Regions from separate parts of the Homo sapiens genome. Here region 2 is linked to region 1. Evidence: fine-mapped expression QTL. A gene starts in region 1. The other region holds a variant in brackets. All regions are shown on one strand. Distances are from middle to middle.

The links. PIP is the estimated chance that this variant, and not a neighbour inherited with it, causes the effect.
Region 2: its variant is fine-mapped to the expression of SORBS3 in whole blood (INTERVAL, PIP 0.92).

Annotation. Positions count from the first base shown.
Region 1 is chr8:22,548,037-22,556,364 of GRCh38, forward strand. It overlaps SORBS3 (sorbin and SH3 domain containing 3), which reads left to right and starts at 3,891. Exons shown (of 21, transcript NM_005775.5): 1 at 3,891-3,986; 2 at 6,416-6,572; 3 at 6,827-6,944. The coding sequence starts at 6,471. It overlaps LOC124901905 (a long non-coding RNA gene), which reads right to left and starts at 6,089. Exons shown (of 2, transcript XR_007060851.1): 1 at 4,126-6,089. RefSeq lists enhancers at 1,030-1,530, 2,856-3,820, 4,044-4,921, 4,729-4,778, 4,922-5,797 and 1 more and silencers at 3,209-3,338, 3,649-3,828, 3,979-4,058.
Region 2 is chr8:22,521,510-22,529,837 of GRCh38, forward strand. PPP3CC (protein phosphatase 3 catalytic subunit gamma) reads left to right here. Exons shown (of 14, transcript NM_005605.5): 7 at 982-1,059; 8 at 1,146-1,240; 9 at 5,883-6,008; 10 at 6,997-7,068. All of the region lies in intron 1 of LOC124901905 (a long non-coding RNA gene), which reads right to left. Among named protein-coding and RNA genes, the nearest start is that of SORBS3, 26 kb to the right of the region's middle. The variant CTCTCTCTT/C (reference allele first, on the strand shown) is at 4,043.

The DNA of each region.
Region 1 (8,328 bases):
TGGGGTTCCATGCACCCATCCTGGCTGTCAGGCCCCAATACCCATCATACTTGACCTGTACTGGGTATTTTTTCACTCAGATCCCTCACTCTACAGTGACTCTACCAGAAATCTTGAATTCCAGATGAGCCACGTCATGCCATTGTCAGCATAGGAGGCCCTTTGAAGCCCCAAAATGGGTCATTTGCACTCCCTTCTTCTGCCTGCTCCTGTTCCCATGAGTGGTTGGCATGGAAAGGGCCATCAGTAGAACTTGGCTGGCAACATTTGCAGGAGCAGGAATCAACAGAGGACCCAGGAGAAAGGGATGGAGCCCAGGGCATGAAACATAGTCCAGATTCCTGCTGGTATGTCCATGTGACTTGGTTTCAATTCCTCACCATTGTGTCACTGTGGCCTTCTAGAGAAGTCCAAACTGCTGGAAACGGGCAGTGCTTTCTGCGCTAACCCCTTCTGGTCTGACTGCTCAGCTTAGAGGAAGGAAGAAAACACTCAGAATTCTGAGAGCAAAACCCCCCAAAAAATCTACTCAAAGCACCTGAAGTTCATCCCTGGGGAGGAGAAGAAAGGAAGAGCAGATGCCCTGTATCTCCATGGGGGTACTGAGGCACAGAGCTAGGGCCGCCTAGCTGCCCAGGGTAGATCTCAGAGGGTGACTCATCTGAATTGCCGATTCCCAGCACCAGAGCAAGGCGCTCCTCAAGAACTGAGTCCGGGTTCATGTCTTCTGGGACCCCTGGCTTCCCTTTTCCCACTTGAGAACTAAAACTGGGTGCTCTGCCCACCCCGCTCACCCCGCCTTCACTTCAGTGCTCTTTCCCCTCATTTGTCATCCTTGGTGACAGAGATTGCTTTTCAGAGTGACCCGCATTCCACCGCCTTCTCCCCCTCCCTGTGAAGAGCCACATTTACTGGTAGTCCCGTGGCTAATCCTCCCCTGCAGGGGGGTGGGGGTTGTGGACAGACCCCTGTTGACGGTGATGTTGGGGACTACCCACAGAACAAAAGGTGCAGCCTCAAGGGCTTGAGCGGGGAATACTGATGCCTGGGATCAGGTAGCTGGGAAAACAGGGCAGTTATGTAACTGTGTTTACTGTGGCTCAGGTGGCTCTGAGAAGGCAGAGGCAGCCCCTGACAAAGGGCAGTGCCAGAGGTGGGGAAGCCGCGACTTGCAGGGAGGGAGGCCCCTCTTAGACAGGGGAGTCGTGCATGCAAAGGAGAGAGTGCAGTGGGATTTGGAAAGGAAAGGAATCTGTTCTGTTGTTGACAGCCAGCCGGCCAGCCGCCTTATCTAGGACAATCTTCCCAGCCTCAGCCTCTCCCTAACCGTGCCAGCTGTGGAGGCAGCAAGGGGAGCTGACGCTAGAGGGAGGCGTCGGGAAATCAGACACCTGGTTCCTGGCTCAATCTCCAAACCCTGCTACTTTTCCCCCCTTAATCTACTTTTCAAAGAGAAGGAATTCTTCTCTTTAGATAAGGGCAGAAAGGGAGGAATCAGTCAAATTTCCTTATGTTTTCCCTGCCCTGTGGCCCACTGTCTCCCATCCTCTCGGCTGTGAGGCCAGATGGGCACCACGGAACATGGTGGATTCTGACCTGAGAGAGGTGATAAACCCGGCAGAGCCCAGGCCTAAGTAGACAGGCAGAAGTCAAAGCGGCTCAGGAAGAAAGCTCAGGTCTCCCGTAGACCTACCCCGCCTCCTCCTGCAAAGCTGTTTACTCAACGCCCGATTCCCATAGAGATGAAACTGGTAGCCAGTCCCCAGCTCCTTACCCATGGCTGCCACCTCCCTTTGTGAGAAACAGGAAGTGGGGAACTTTGTCAGCTCTGCTGCACCCTCTACACTAAATATTTATCTTGGAGTCCAGGTCAGAGCCCTAGAGAATAAGAGAAGCTTGCTGCTGGTGAGGGGGTATGGCCAGGATTCCTGGAGTCGGAAGAGCTTCAGCTTCACCATCTTGGGAGAAGAAGGAAGAAAGTGAAAGCGATGTGGTCCTTCTTAGTCCCAAGGACCCTGACAGGTGGGAAAAATGCGTGTCTAAGAAAATGGGCACCTATTTTATCCCTGAGGGAGGGAAGAGGCTACCTGGCGTGGATAAGAAGGTTTCTAAGCTTCAGGTTGGGGGGCAGTGCACTGCTGCGTCCCTCAAGAAGTGTCCCAGGGTTCCCCCACTGCTCAGCTGTCCTCCACAGCAATGCCCCTGCCATCCCCATCTCTCCGCCTTCCTGGAGAGTCAGAGGTTCTTGGAAGGAGTCTTCAAGGTCATCTTGTTCAGCTCCCCGCTCAGTGCAACAGTTGCCTTTACATAGATGCCCCACAACTGGCAGACTCAGAACCCCTGGAATCATGTAAAAATTTGTCCTGGGAAGCCTTGGACCTGCTTCCCTATGACGTGTCCCCCAGTGGTCCCACTGCTGCTGGTGCAGCTGTGTGTCCACATGGCAGCCCCGCAGGCGCTAGAGGCCAGCAGGCCTATCTGAAGCTTCTCAACCCAAACATCTCCTCCAGCTTTCACATGTGATGTTTCAAGGCAACGGGGAGAGCTTCTTTACCAGAACGAGGGAGAAGATAAGACTAAAGCAGTAATGGTGGTAGGGACTGAAAATCACTTAGTCTTTTCTCTACTCTCTTTCTTTCCAAACTTTGAGTTGAGTGGTGAGCTTGGAAAACACTCCAAAACTCCTCGTGGCCTCTGGCACCAGTCTGACACCCAGTAGGAATGCAGGAGATTACGTTAGTTTTCATAATTTAGCATTGATCACTCCCAGCTCGTAGCTAAAGTTGATCAGTAACTGTTGGTTGGTTGGCTGGTTTGGGGCTTGGGGATCCCTGAGCCAACTCAAGGGCCAGAAAGGATTCCAGAGTGTTTCCACGGTCCTTCAATGTTCCTTAAGCATTCCCACTTTCTGAAGTGCCATACAGAGGCTTGGGGCAGAGACAGGGAGAGGGGATGACCAGAATGGATGGGGAGCCGGAAGGGCCGGGGCTCTGGGGACCCAGCTCAGAGCAGCGAGAACAGCGGAAAAGCAGGCAGATCAAAACAAACACAGTGTCTGGGAACACCAAGACCCTCCTAATCCCATCCCCGCCAAAGGGACCCCACCCTTATCCTCTTTAGGGGCGCGGCACGCCCGGGGGGGCCGCTCCCTTGGGCTGATTTCCTCCCTGTGCTTGCACGTGTGTGAGCGTCCCCACGTTTGCAGTGTACGCGCGCGTGTTTGTTTGCACACGACCGGCCGCGCGCCGCCGCAGGCACACCCTCTCCCCCAGCGCGGAGGGGCGGCGGGGCCTTCCCCTGGTCCGCTCCGCCACTCTGCCTGCGGGGCGCCCTCATCTCGCTCCCGGCCTGTCCGTCTCTCCCGGCTTGCCCAGTTCACCACTCCTGCCCCCTTGTCCTGGCTCCGCCCGGTTCATCGCTCCTGCCCCTGTCCTGGCTCCGCTGCGAGGCCGCTCGCTTCCCACACTCTGGAAATGTCGCTGGAAACTCTGAGTGGCCCGTGTCGGGCCGCCCGACCCCTCCCCGACGCCAGCCCTGCGGTAGGGGCCGGGATGGCAGCTGGGAAACCAGAGAGGGCTCCCCGGGGACCCTCGGCGGCCCCTCCCGGCGCCGCCTCCCCGCCGGCCAGGCCTCCTCGGCAGGGGGCCACCAGTGTCCCCGCGCGCGCCCCGACGGACGGAGAGCACTCGCACGTCCCTCCTCTCCGGCCCAGCCCCGGCCCGCAGTCCAGATCCGAGACCCAAACTCCGCCCGCCCCGCCGCGCGACTCTCACGGTCCGGCCTCCGGCGCGCGCCCCTTCGGCCTCCCTCTTCCTGCGCCGGCGCCCGGCCCGGCCCGGCCCGTCCTGACCCGGTCACGAGGGCCGCGACGGCCCGCGCTTCTCCTTGCCCTTCCTCCTCGAGCGCCCGCGCCAGGCAGCAGCCGGGCAGGGATGCTCCTGCGCTCCCGGGCGGCCTCGGGCCCAGCCACCTGCTCGCCGGGGAAGGTAGGTCCGGGCAAGGAGGGGCGGGGAGTAGGCGAGGCCGGCGGGAGGGATCCGTGCCCAACCCCAGGGAATCGCACCTAGCCCCTCCCCGGGGTCCGCGTCCCAAACTCTGGGAAGTACCTCCCACCAGCCCTCATACCAGAAAAAGCGAAATTCAAGAAAAGCTGTCCTTGTCCACGTGGCCTTGTCGCTGAGAAATACCTGGGAAAGCTCTTAGGGCCAGGCACCCAAGGTCAGGGCAGTGTTCAGAGCAGGGAGGCCAGTGCCCACCCCAGCAGAGCCGCCTCCCCTCTCCCGCTCCAGGGGCCTCTCCCCGCTCCCGGGGCTGGCTGCCTGCCTGGAGGGGAGGTCTGAATTCTGGGAGGACCCCTCCGCTCTCTGCTACATGGGGGACCAGTCCCCAGATGCTGCCCTCTTCCTTGTAAGTCCTCCCTAAGTCTCCTGACCTGGCTGCCAAGAGAAGGACTCGGACCACCCTTCCCTGGAGGTTCCTGTGGTGGGGGGCGACACAAGGGGCAGGGTTGAGAAGGGGCAGATGGGGGCACCAAGGGTAAGCAACCTCTGACTACGGGTCGTGGGGGACCTCCTGCCCTACCCATCCTCCAAGAGAGCAGTTCTCACCGAGCACGAGGTGGGCGGGGAGGTCAGGGAAGGAAGGCGCTGTCAGCTGATGGCCCAGGCGGCAGCTGCTGAGCTGCAATTTGGCCCGAAGCAGTCAGCTGGGCAGGGAGGGGTGCTGCGAGGAGCCGACCAGCTCCAGGTCTCCTGACCTTCCACCCCACCCTGCCTCAACTCCCCCCCGCAAGGGGAGGTGGAGTGTGGGGACTGGGGTGTGTCTGCCTGTTTTGCTTTGGTGGGAGTCCTAATTGGACCCAGCTGGGGAGCTGCTCCTCCTCCAGCCTCAGCCCTCCACTCCCCCCAGTCAGGCATGGGCACAGAAGAGCTGTGTCGCAGCAACTCAAATGTCAGGAGTCCCCACAAACTCAAACCAGAGACAAGGAGCTGCCCCCAGCCTTGGCTACACCCTCGCTAGCCCTGGGCAGGAGCTGGGTCCAGGGGCTGAGTCATCCCAGCCTTATTCTACCTTCATCCCCTCTGGGCCCCCAACTCTTCCACTGCTCACATGACTGCACCTCCCACCACTGTTCAGCTGACACCCCTCTGTACCCACAACCCCCATGCAGCTCATGTGGTCCCTCCGGTGGTCCCCCCAGAAGTCATATTCGCAGCTCTGCACCCAGATTCCAACACACACATACACACAGCTCCTCCCGATGCATTTGCAGCCCTCCCTGAGAGCCCCCAAGGACCCCACAGGCACAGGCAAACCTGATTCCATCCAGTCCTGGGCAGTGGCAGAGCTTGGCTGTTTCTGGTCCAGTCCAGCAGCCAAGACGCGGAGGGATGGACGCCGTAGCACCGTGCTCTGGGTCAAAAAGCCCCCTTGGACACCCCAAACTGGGAGCCCCTTTTTGTCCTCTTGCACCCCCACTCTGGGCTCCCCTCTTGCCCCTCCATTCCCTGGGTGCCTAGGGCTCCCTTCCCCTTCCCCAGCCTTGGGATGAGGCAGAAGAAGCTGGCTGTGGGCAGGCATGGTGCTGCCAGGGAAGACCCTGCACTCACAAAACAGCCTGGAGGGGCGGGAGAAAGTGGAGCCAGGGAGCGCGTGTATGTGCGTGCACATTTGCCCACATGCAGAACACCCCAGGGCACTCAGCACCAACTCTCCATGGGCATGAGCAGGTTCAGCTCTGCCCTCACCCACCGCTTCTGTCTCCACCCACCCGGAGCCCTCTGAGTCCTCATTCTGTGAAGGAGGCCAAAGAAGGGCCCGATGCTCCCTGTGAGCTCGCAAGAGTGGGTCTTGCTGCCTGGAAATGCCCCCGACGCTCCCCTTGGCCCTATTGGGCTTAAGGCCCTGCTGACTGCTTCCTGGAGGGCAGTGGGCGGGTGGCTGAGTAATCCCTTGTGCCCGCAGGCAAGAGATGCCCACACGGCCTGGGGGAGGCAGAGGGAACTGAAACAAAGTCCTGTGTTCCCAGGCCCCCTCTCTGCCGGCTGCCCCACTTCCCCTGCGCCTTCCCTCCGGGGGAGTGGGGAAGCCAGCTGCACCCGTGCAGGGAGAGCCCCACGGGCTCCTGGCCAGCCCCTCCCCTCCTCCTCACCCAAGCTCCCCCTCCCCCACTCCCACCCGGAGCTCCTGCCCTGGGCCTAACAAGTGGTCCATTGTGCCCCTGGGAGCCGGCAGGCACGGGCAGCCTGCAGGCGGGTGCCTGGCGTGGCCTGTTTCCTGGGTCCTTGAGCTAGTACCCAGCTGGTCCTGACCCCCTCCCACAGCCGGCCCCTCCTCCCCTATCCCAGGGTCGAGCCAAGAGGGCATGGGCAGCCTAGCCTAGCAGGGCTTTCCCTTCCTTCCTCCTTCCCCACAGAGGACACGCAGAGGAGCAGCTGGCTTGCCCGGAGTCCTCCCACCTTGACCCAAGCATGCAGGGCCCACCCCGCAGCCTCCGCGCTGGGCTCAGCCTGGACGACTTCATCCCTGGCCACCTCCAGTCCCACATAGGGTCTTCCTCCCGGGGGACACGGGTGAGTGAGTCAGTAGGGAGGAGGGTGTCCTGCGGGCCCGGAGTTGGTTGGGACGCTAGCAGGTCAGGTGGGGGCAGGAGGATGAAAGGGATGGAGGGAGGGCTGAAGAGAGCTCTGGGGGGCCTCGCTGGTTTCCCACAAAATCGTCAGGCGGGCCTGGGACTGTCACCGAGGGGTGTGGGCTGTGCCTAGTAGCCATCCCTCCCTCCCGCCCTGCTGGGCCCTGAGCTGCCGCTCCTGGCCCCTCCCCGCAGGTGCCCGTGATCCGGAATGGTGGCTCCAACACCCTTAATTTCCAGTTCCACGACCCCGCGCCCAGGACTGTGTGCAATGGGGGCTACACACCAAGACGAGATGCTTCCCAGCACCCGGGTAGGTCTGCTCAGGAGCCTCATGCTGGAGATGGAGGGTCAGGGCCCTGCCATCTGGCACTGCCCTGTGTCAAGCGGGAGGGGCAGCAGCTGGAGATGGGGTTCTCAAGGCCATGAGGAGGTTCCTCAGAGGCCTCTGGGCTCACTATGAGCCCCTCCCTGCGGAGCCTGCTGACTCTGCAAGAGACACCCGCTTGGGGAGAGCAGGCTGATGCATCCCTTCCCCTGCCCTCCAGCCTGGTGCCAGGGAAAGGAAGCGTGCAGGAGCCCTGGGCGCCGGAGGACCTCCCACAGGGACTGGGGATGGAAGGGTGGAGGTGATGTGGGTATCTGTTGGCTTGGGAAGGGGTGGAGACTGTCCCATTCAGGCCCAACAGGCTACCCAGCAGGAGGTTAGAGAGGCAGTTCTAGATCCCAGTCCAGAGGTCCTGGGAACTCCTGGGTGCAGGCCAGCCCTGAACATGTCTCTCCTAAAGTGACATCCTTTATCAAGCATTCCCCTAAGACAGGTGCTGTGTAAAGGAATTTATTCATTTAACAATTATCCAGCCTGGGCAACATAGCAAGACCCTGTCTCTATCAGCCTGGATGACACAGCAAGACCCTGTCACTTAAAACACACACACACTGAGAGGCTGAGGTGTGTGGATGACCTGAGGTCAGGAGTTCGAGACCAGCCTGGCCAACATGGTGAAACCCCATCTCTAATAAAAATACAAAAATTTGCTGGGTGTGGTGGCGGGTGCCTGAAATCCCAGCTACTTGGGAGGTTGAGGCAGGAGAATCACTTGAACCTGGGAGGTGGAGGTTGCAGTGAGCTGAGATCGTGCCACTGCACTCCAGCCTGGGCAACAAGAGCAAAACTGTCTCAAAACAAAAACAAAAACAAAACAAAACCAAAAAAAACACCCACACAATTATGGAACACCCAGAGCGTGCTGGACACTGTAAAAACACTTTACGAGGCTCACCTCGTTTAACCCCTCGATATCCTGACAAAGTAGGGGTGATGATGACTGACAGCTTCCCAGTAAGGAACCCCATTCGCAGAGATGTTCAGCCATAGAGGCTGAGCTGCAATTCACACACTTGTACATCTGGCCTCAAAGCCCTTATTCTGCTGCCCTAGCTACTTAGAGGCTAACACTTATGGGTAAGTTGAGGACTCAGTCACAACCATGTCTGGGGAATGGGTTTCTGACCTTCACTGAGAGCCTCTCGACTGTGTGCCAGGCACTGTGCTGGGTACAGTCACACACGCTAGATGTCACTGAATCCTTGTCACAATGACCCTTGTTTTACAGAAGTGGAAACTGAGACACTGAGAAGGTGACTGATGTACCCCAGGCCATGGCAGCCAATAGGTGGTAGAGCTGGGGTCTGAA
Region 2 (8,328 bases), 27 kb before region 1:
GTTTCATAACCACCTACCTCAATCCTAAGGTTCTTACAATGGCACTTATGGCCATGGATGGCTTCCAAACTATTGTTTCTGTAGGAGGACCAGGGCTGGGGACATTCTCTTTTGCTATCTTGCTTACGTCACCTACAACCTACTTTAAAAGTAAATTTGTTCTAATGAGCATAATGAGAAACAAAGATTTTAAAAATAAACTAAATAATTAATGCCTAAGTAATTCCAGGTTAATTTTGTATACTCCAGTTCTTCCTATCAGGTATTTGTCATTCAGAGAGGTAATAGTATGAAAAGAATATTTTAGGAGTATATGAGAATATTGTATCTTTTTTTAGAATATGGTTGGCTAAAATATTTACATCTGCTCCTAAAATATTCCTGCATAAGCTTGCAGTGAGCCGAGATTGCACCACTGCACTCCAGCCTGGGCGACAGAGCAAGACTCCGTCTCAAAAAAAAAAACAAACCTATATATATACATATATATGTATATATGTATTCCTGCATAATATTATCTTGGTGTTTATATTACCTGTGAAGCTGTAAGTATATTCTTTTATTTCTGTAACAATTTGACAATTGAAGAAAAGTATGTGTTGAATTTTTAGCATCTACTACACACACACGCACACACACACACACACACACACTACTGTTGTACTTTGTAATATCAAGACACTGATAAAAGTTTTGGTGTTGTATTGTTATGGATTAAGACAAAAAAATTAAAAGATGAGATGGAGGAGCTCTTTCTATTGTAGGATTATCTATTGTTTTCATGTTTGATCTGTAGTGAAGTATATTAGTGAAATAGAGAAACAGAATGATGAGTACTAAGCTATTCATAAAATTTCAGTAGTGTGTAATACTTGTAGTTTTGAAACAAAATCAGCTAATATCACCTTGACTTTTCCCCATCTTCCTATTAAAAAAAATTGTTTTAATTCTGGATTTATGTTTTCTAATTTTCTTTTCCAGTTACCCTGCAGTTTGTGAATTTTTGCAGAACAATAATTTACTATCAATTATCAGAGCCCATGAAGCCCAAGATGCTGGGTAAGTTACATTAAAATTGTACCAAATATCGCTGCAGAGTCTTTGCATTTAATATGCAGACAGATGGACTTTCATCTCTTTTTCAGGTATCGAATGTACAGGAAGAGCCAAGCCACAGGCTTTCCATCACTTATTACAATTTTCTCTGCCCCCAATTACCTAGATGTCTATAACAATAAAGGTAAAGGAATCCAGCAATATTTGAGTTTGAATTTATGAGTAAACGTGAGCTCTGGTTTAATTGTATGTACGTATGTGTGTTTGTGTCATTTTAAAACATAAATTTTAAATAAGAAAAAAAGGGGTCTTAGTTGAAACAAAGGCCAAGAAATTTAGAATTTATGCTGCTGCTTGGTCTTTATCTCCTAAGGATTACTGGCTTCTTTGTGAGTATAAATAATGATCATAATAGGTCAGATTGATACTACAGAATCAAAGTATAAGAAGAATAAATTGCTTCAGGCTCATGCCAGAATAGTTAGCATAAATTATTGGTTTTGGTGAATTTAATGTGTTTATAACAGTATCTCAAAGTCACCATTGGTATTTTAATCTTTGTGAATTATTAAACTATTTTTGTTTTTCTTGAGATATGGTCTAGGTAGAGTGACCTAGTGTACAAAGTCAAAAAAAAACCTTCATTTTTAGTTTAAACCCTGCCAGAAACGAATACTGTGACTTTGAGTGAGTCACATTATCTTTCTAATCTTCAGTTTCCCATATGAAAAAAGAAGAATGGATATATACATGCCTTTTGTTCCAGAAATTTTACTTCTAAGACTTTATCCTGTTAAAGTCTTTTTTTTAATTTAAAACTTTTATGATTAATAGTTTATAAGTTTTCTATCGAGGCAGTGGTCCTACTAAAAACTTCATATTTCTGTAACTATTTTGTTGTTTATAAAGTATGACTATAAATTAATAGGACTTTGAAAATAAACATGCCAGAACAAACATATCCAAATGAGTATTGTCCCTTCAAAGTAGTTACCTTGGGAGGCTACACACCTATTCCAACAATGCTGTCCTTGTTCAAAAACATTTTTGGAACTCCTCTTTTGGCATTGCCTTCAGAGTCTGCGACACATTCTTTTGATTATCCTCAATGATGGGAAATCTTCGTCCTTTGAGGGTGGATTTGATTTTTGGACAGCCAAAAGTCATTCGGAGTCAAGACTGATAAATAAGGTGAGTGATCAAGCTAGATGATACCATTTGGGGTCAGAAACAAGGTATGATTATAAGGTAATGAGACTGGTTTTTCTCGTGTTGCTGATACAGTGGCTCTGGAGGCACTTCCAAAAGAGGAGTTCCAAAAACGTTTTGAGTAATGGCAGCATCTCTGGATTAATTATATGGTAAGGCAACAAGTTGTGCTGAAAAGAACACAAAGCAAGGAGTCAGTCTAGTCCTGCTTCACTTTTAAGTGTGTCACATTTAACAAGATACTTCTCTGAGCCTCATCTTTAAAATATCTGTCATATGGGGTTGTTGAAGATAAGTTGGAATAAGGAAAATGGATATTAAAGTGTTGTTCAAAATATAAATTACTATAATAATACAGATTTTACTGTTATTGTACCTGATGTGATAATATCAAAGGACCACACTCATCTGATAAAAAGGTCTGGTGTGTTTGTAGCTGGTGGTTTCTTAAGTCTCATTACTTTATAGTTATACCTTGTATATGCAGTTGGGGAGATAAGTTTCAAAGATGGCCAAAATATAATTAATATTTACTCTATTTAAAAGTAAACCATGGAATGGCACATCTCATTTAAATCCGATTTGGGTCAGTCATTTTAGTGTGTCCTCCAGTGACTTGTCTATTTTAAAAAGCATGTCTTTAACTTAAGTTCTGTCCTAGTCTTATGTTTTCATTTAACTTAGCATTCTTCTCTGAGCCTTATCTGTCCTACAATGCTCTGCTTCTCCCTAAGTTCATTTGTTATTTCCTTTTTCCTGATATTTCCAGTATATTAGCAACTTAGGTTTTATTCTTATTTATTCTCTTATCAATGGTGTGGACTGTTTGTGTTGTTAAACGTCTTCAAGGACTCTTGTGGCCCTAGATCTCCTATTTGTAATGAAGGTGTTTCTTTCTCACTTTCTTTTTTAACTTCATCAAAAAGAGTATCTATTGATTGCTCAATGGATTTATCAGTGTGCCAAGCTGAAACACGCCACCTAAGTCAGCAGGCACTATACAGCTCACTCACTGCTAGCTTGTTTTTTGTCTCAATCTAACCTGGTTTTGTTCTTGATTATTTCTTTAGCAAACTTTTAACATCACAGTCCTGGCCAGGCACAGTGGCTCATGCCTGTAATCTCAGCACTTTGGGAGGCCAAGGGGAGGATCACTTGAGGCCTAGAATTCAAGACCAGCCTGGGCAGCAAAATGTGACCCCATCTTTACAAAGAAAAATTTAAAAGTTAGCCAGGCAAGGTGGAGCATGCCTATAGTCCTAGCTACTCAGGAGGCTGAGGCAGTAGGATCCTTTGAGTCCAGTAGTTCGAGGCTGCAGTGAGCTGTGATCACACCACTGCATTCCAGCCAGGCAATAGAGCAAGACCCTGTCTCTAAAAAATAAAAAAAAAAGTAAAAGCCACAGTTCATTCTACCTGAGTATTCTGTCGGCTTTGACATAATTAGTAACTTTTATCTCAAAACAGTCTTATTTTCATTGGTTGTTTCTTAGGCATTTTAGAAGGAAAAAGGCAGAAAATGTGGCATTTGAAACAGTCCCTGGGGGTACTCAGTTACTCCCCATACAAGTGCCTTCTTTTCTGAAAAAGGGAACTCTATTATTCTTTTTCTTCTTCCTTTTCTTCTACTGTTGCTCTTCTTTCTCTTTCTCTCTTTTCTTTTCTCTCTCTTTCTCTCTCTCTTTCTTTTCTTTCTTTTTCTTTCTGCTTCCTTTTCTTCTTTCTTTCTTTCTTTCTTTCTTTCTTTCTTTCTTTCTTTCTTTCTCTCCCTCTCTCT[CTCTCTCTT/C]TCTTTCTCTCTCTCTCTCTTTCTCTCGGTCTCTGTCACTTAGGTTGGAGCACAGTGGCAGGAACTTGATTCACTGCAGCCTCGACTTCCTGGGCTCAAGTGATCCTCCCACCTCAGCCTCCCAACTAGCTGGGACCACAGGTGCATGCCGCTACACCTGGCTAATTTTAAAATATTTTTTATAGAGATAGGGTCTCGTTATGTTGCCCAGACTGGTCTCAAACTCCTGAGCTTAAGCAGTCCTCCTGCCTCGGCCTCCCAAAGTGCTGGTATTACAAGTGTGTGCCACCACACCTGGCCTCTTTCATATTATTTTTTTTTTTTCAGAGACAGAGTCTCACTGTGTTGCCCAGGCTGGAGTGCAGTGGTGCGGTCTTGGCTCACTACAACCTCTGCCTCCCGGGTTCAAGCAATTCTCCCGCCTCAGCCTCCCGAGTAGCTGGGACTACAGGTGCACGTCGCCACGCCTGGCTAATTTTTTTTATTTTAGTAGAGACGGGGTTTTACCATGTTGCCCAGGCTGGTCTCAATCTCCTGAGCTCAGGCAATCTGCCCACCTCGGCCTCCCAAAGTGCTAGGAGTGCTCTTTCATATTCTTTAGACTTCTTGGTATCTACAGGTATTTCCTAGTTCCACTAGTTACACGAAAGACCTTTAATCATGATTTTTAAAGATTCTTATTCTTGTTTTCTTCTGTCCACTGGGAACACACCCAAAAGCAGTTTTATAAGCTCTTGTTTCCAGTCATTCACTGTTGAGACTCACCTCCCACTTCTTTTTCCTGGGTAGAAATTGAGGGAGTTGTTGAATAATGATATATGACATATTTACCTAAACTAAATAAAATACATACACGTGAAAATAATGGAACATGTACATCATAGCCAGTGTTAGGCTTTTTAAGTGCTAGAAACTATATTTTAATTTATTTTCTTAATAATATATGGTGTACATTTTAGACATTCAATAACTTAAATTTTAAGAACACTAGATTATCCTGTAGCAAAGAAACAGGAATGAGGACGTGACCTATATCTGTCATTTCTGGAGAACTGTTACACCCTGTTTTATTTTATGACCACAGAATAATTAAGAGAATAGTGCAAACAACATTGCTGGTGATAAAGGCTAAGGAATTGGATTTTAAGACTTTCAAAATATAAAGAAAATCAGTTTGGCATCAAAGTATGTGTGCGACTATCTGAATGGTTAATATTAAACATAGCATGCTGGCAATACACTGCTGTGTATTGGAGAAATCGGCAATTTTAAAATCCGCTATATTGAATACAGAGATGACTTAATCTAATTTTGAACATTTAATTGTAAATTGCTCCAAGTTTGCCATTTGTATCTTCCAGTATGAGTTGATAACTGCAATATATAAACTCCCAGAGAGTGTATACAATCTTTGACTCTGGCTAATGACTAGCAAAACAGGCTGTGTCCATTTAATGAGTAATTTTTGCCTTCAAAGGAGAGTTGTAATTATAACCATTTGGCCTATAAAAGGAAATTATGGGGAAATTTTCCTCACGTGGATCTTGAGGTTTATATAGATAGTTACTGTGCAGTGACTCCAAAGTTTCAGTTTCTTTTGTACTTTTATTATATGAGCTCTTCAGGTAACTTTGTTCCTTGGAATAATTCTTAAGAGAATGAACTGAATAAAAGGCTTTAAAATTTTCCATCTGCCCTTTACCTAGTCAAGTCCTGACTTTACAAATGGAAAGTTCTCGAATTCTGTGTAGCAGGTACACAGCTGTACAAAGCATACCACTTGCCATGCCATGTTCCTCTGTGCCAGATTTTCTTGCTTTTTTCCTTTTTAGCTGCTGTGTTGAAATATGAAAACAATGTCATGAATATCAGGCAGTTTAACTGTTCTCCACACCCCTACTGGCTTCCAAACTTTATGGATGTTTTCACATGGTCTTTGCCTTTTGTTGGGGAAAAAGGTAAGAGAACTAAAGCACATGTCTCATCAGTTGTTTGGTGACTGAGCATACCTTATATTTGCATGAGCCCCTCCATGATTCAGAAATGTTTTCTAATTTTGTTTGTTCTCTACATAGATTTTTTTTTTTTTTTTCTGAGATGGAGTCTCGCTCTGTCACCCAGGCTGGAGTGCAGTGGCACGATCTCAGCTAACTACAACCTCCGCCTCCCAGGTTCAAGCAATTCTCCTGCCTCAGCCTTCTGAGGAGCTGGGATTATAGGCACGTGCCACTGCACCCGGCTAATTTTTGCATTTTAGTAGAGACAGGGTTTCACCATATTGGCCAGGCTGGTCTCAAACTCCTGACCTTAAGTGATCCGCCCTCCTCAGCCTCCCAAAGTGCTGGGATTACAGGTGTGAGCCACCGTGCCCAGCCTCTACATAGATTTGTAAATGGCATGTAATTGGTTCTTAAATTTTAATATATTATGGTTTTTTTATTGTAAATATCAATTTAAAGTAGCTGACCTACTATGATCAAGATGTTAAAATAACATAGTTACTTGTCATTCCCTCAGATTTCTTCAGTACTGAAGAGATTTAAACAGAATTTATTGTCCTTACAATTTTATTTGTACAGCTACTCAAATTAGCTAAGCCTGTTGGACGTAGGCCTGTTGGCTTAACTTTGTAAAGTGGGAAAAAAATTTTCTCACGTGTGTATCAGTGTGGGAAGAAGCTCTGAACAGCAATCCGGTAAAATCAAGTAATTAGGCAATAGATCTTCAAAGACTCCAGACTTTTACTGGAGCAAGTAATCTACCCAAATTCTTTTTAAACCTGAAAGTTTACATTTATGCTACTTTTTATAGCTATTCTTACTAACATAATGATAAATAATTTTTGCTTATGCTTACTTAACATGTGTGTTTATTTAGATATCCACATTATTTTAGAGAAAGTACCTCATTAATCGCGTAAATTTTGGATTATTTTGTCTTACTTAGTCACAGAGATGCTGGTAAATGTGCTCAACATATGCTCTGATGACGAACTGATTTCTGATGATGAAGCAGAAGGTAAACTTTTCCTCCTTTGAACTAAAACTAGAAAGAGGTTTGGTTTTGGTTTTAGTTGTTTTAGTTTATTTTGAATGATTTTCTTTGTCTTATTAAAAATAAAGTTAGTTCATTGTAGAAAAATAAAATTTGAAAAATACGAGAAACCATAAATAAGGAAAAAAAGTCACCCATAATCCCATCATCTTATAGATATCCACAGTTAACATCTTAATGTATACTGTGTTAATTGTCTTTTATCTTTGCACATAGCTTTCCTCTGTAGTACACTATTTTTGTGGAGTTTCTTTGTAGACTAGTTTCTAATGGATCTGTAGTTGTCCATGTTGATCAGTGTTGTAACTAATCCCGGTGGTGTTGGTTATTGGAGTTTTTCCCAAGTTTTTGCCGACAAAACCCATATAGTTTTGAACATTTGTTTAGATAAAAATGTGCACATTCTCTTAACCAATATTTATTACATGCTTGATATATACCAAGTACTGTATTGTTTAGGTCCTTGCTCTCAATAAGCTTATTTGCTAGTGTAGGGAGGAAAAACAGTAAATAAATATGTCAGATGAAAGGAAGTAAAGCAATATTAGAAAATCAGGAATAACACTTCTTGATTATTTCCATAGGATGAATTTGTAGAAATTGAATATCTGTGTCAATTAGTACTTAAAATTACAATTCTGATACAGATAGAAATTTCTGATACAGCCTCTAGAAAGGCTGTACCACTTTACATTTTGCAGGATGCATAGTCACAGTGCTGTCTCCAATACTGTTTATGATACTTGTTATAGTCTGGTGTTACTAAGTTTTTAATTAAATTTTTAGTTTATATTTTTATGAGACTAATGGACAATTTTTTCTTGTGTTTGTTGGCAATGTTTATCTCTCTTTTGTGACTTGTCAATTCATATCTTCTATCCTTTTTTTGAGACAGAGTGTTGTTCTGTCACCCAGGCTGGAGTGCAGTGGCGCGATCTCTGCTCACTGCAACCTTCACCTCCCGAGTTCAAGCGATTCTCCTGCCTTAGCCTCACGAGTAGCTGGGATTATAGGCGCGTGCCACCATGACCAGCTAATTTTTGTATTTTTAGTATAGATGGGGTTTCGCCATGTTGCCCAGGCTAGTCTGGAACTCCTGAGCTCAAAGTGGTCTGCCTGCCTCGGTCTCCCAAAGAGCTGGGATTAACAAGCATGAGCCACCATGCCCAGCCCCATTTTGATTTTTTTCTTATTGGTGTGTGAGGGATCTTTTTATACAGTAAC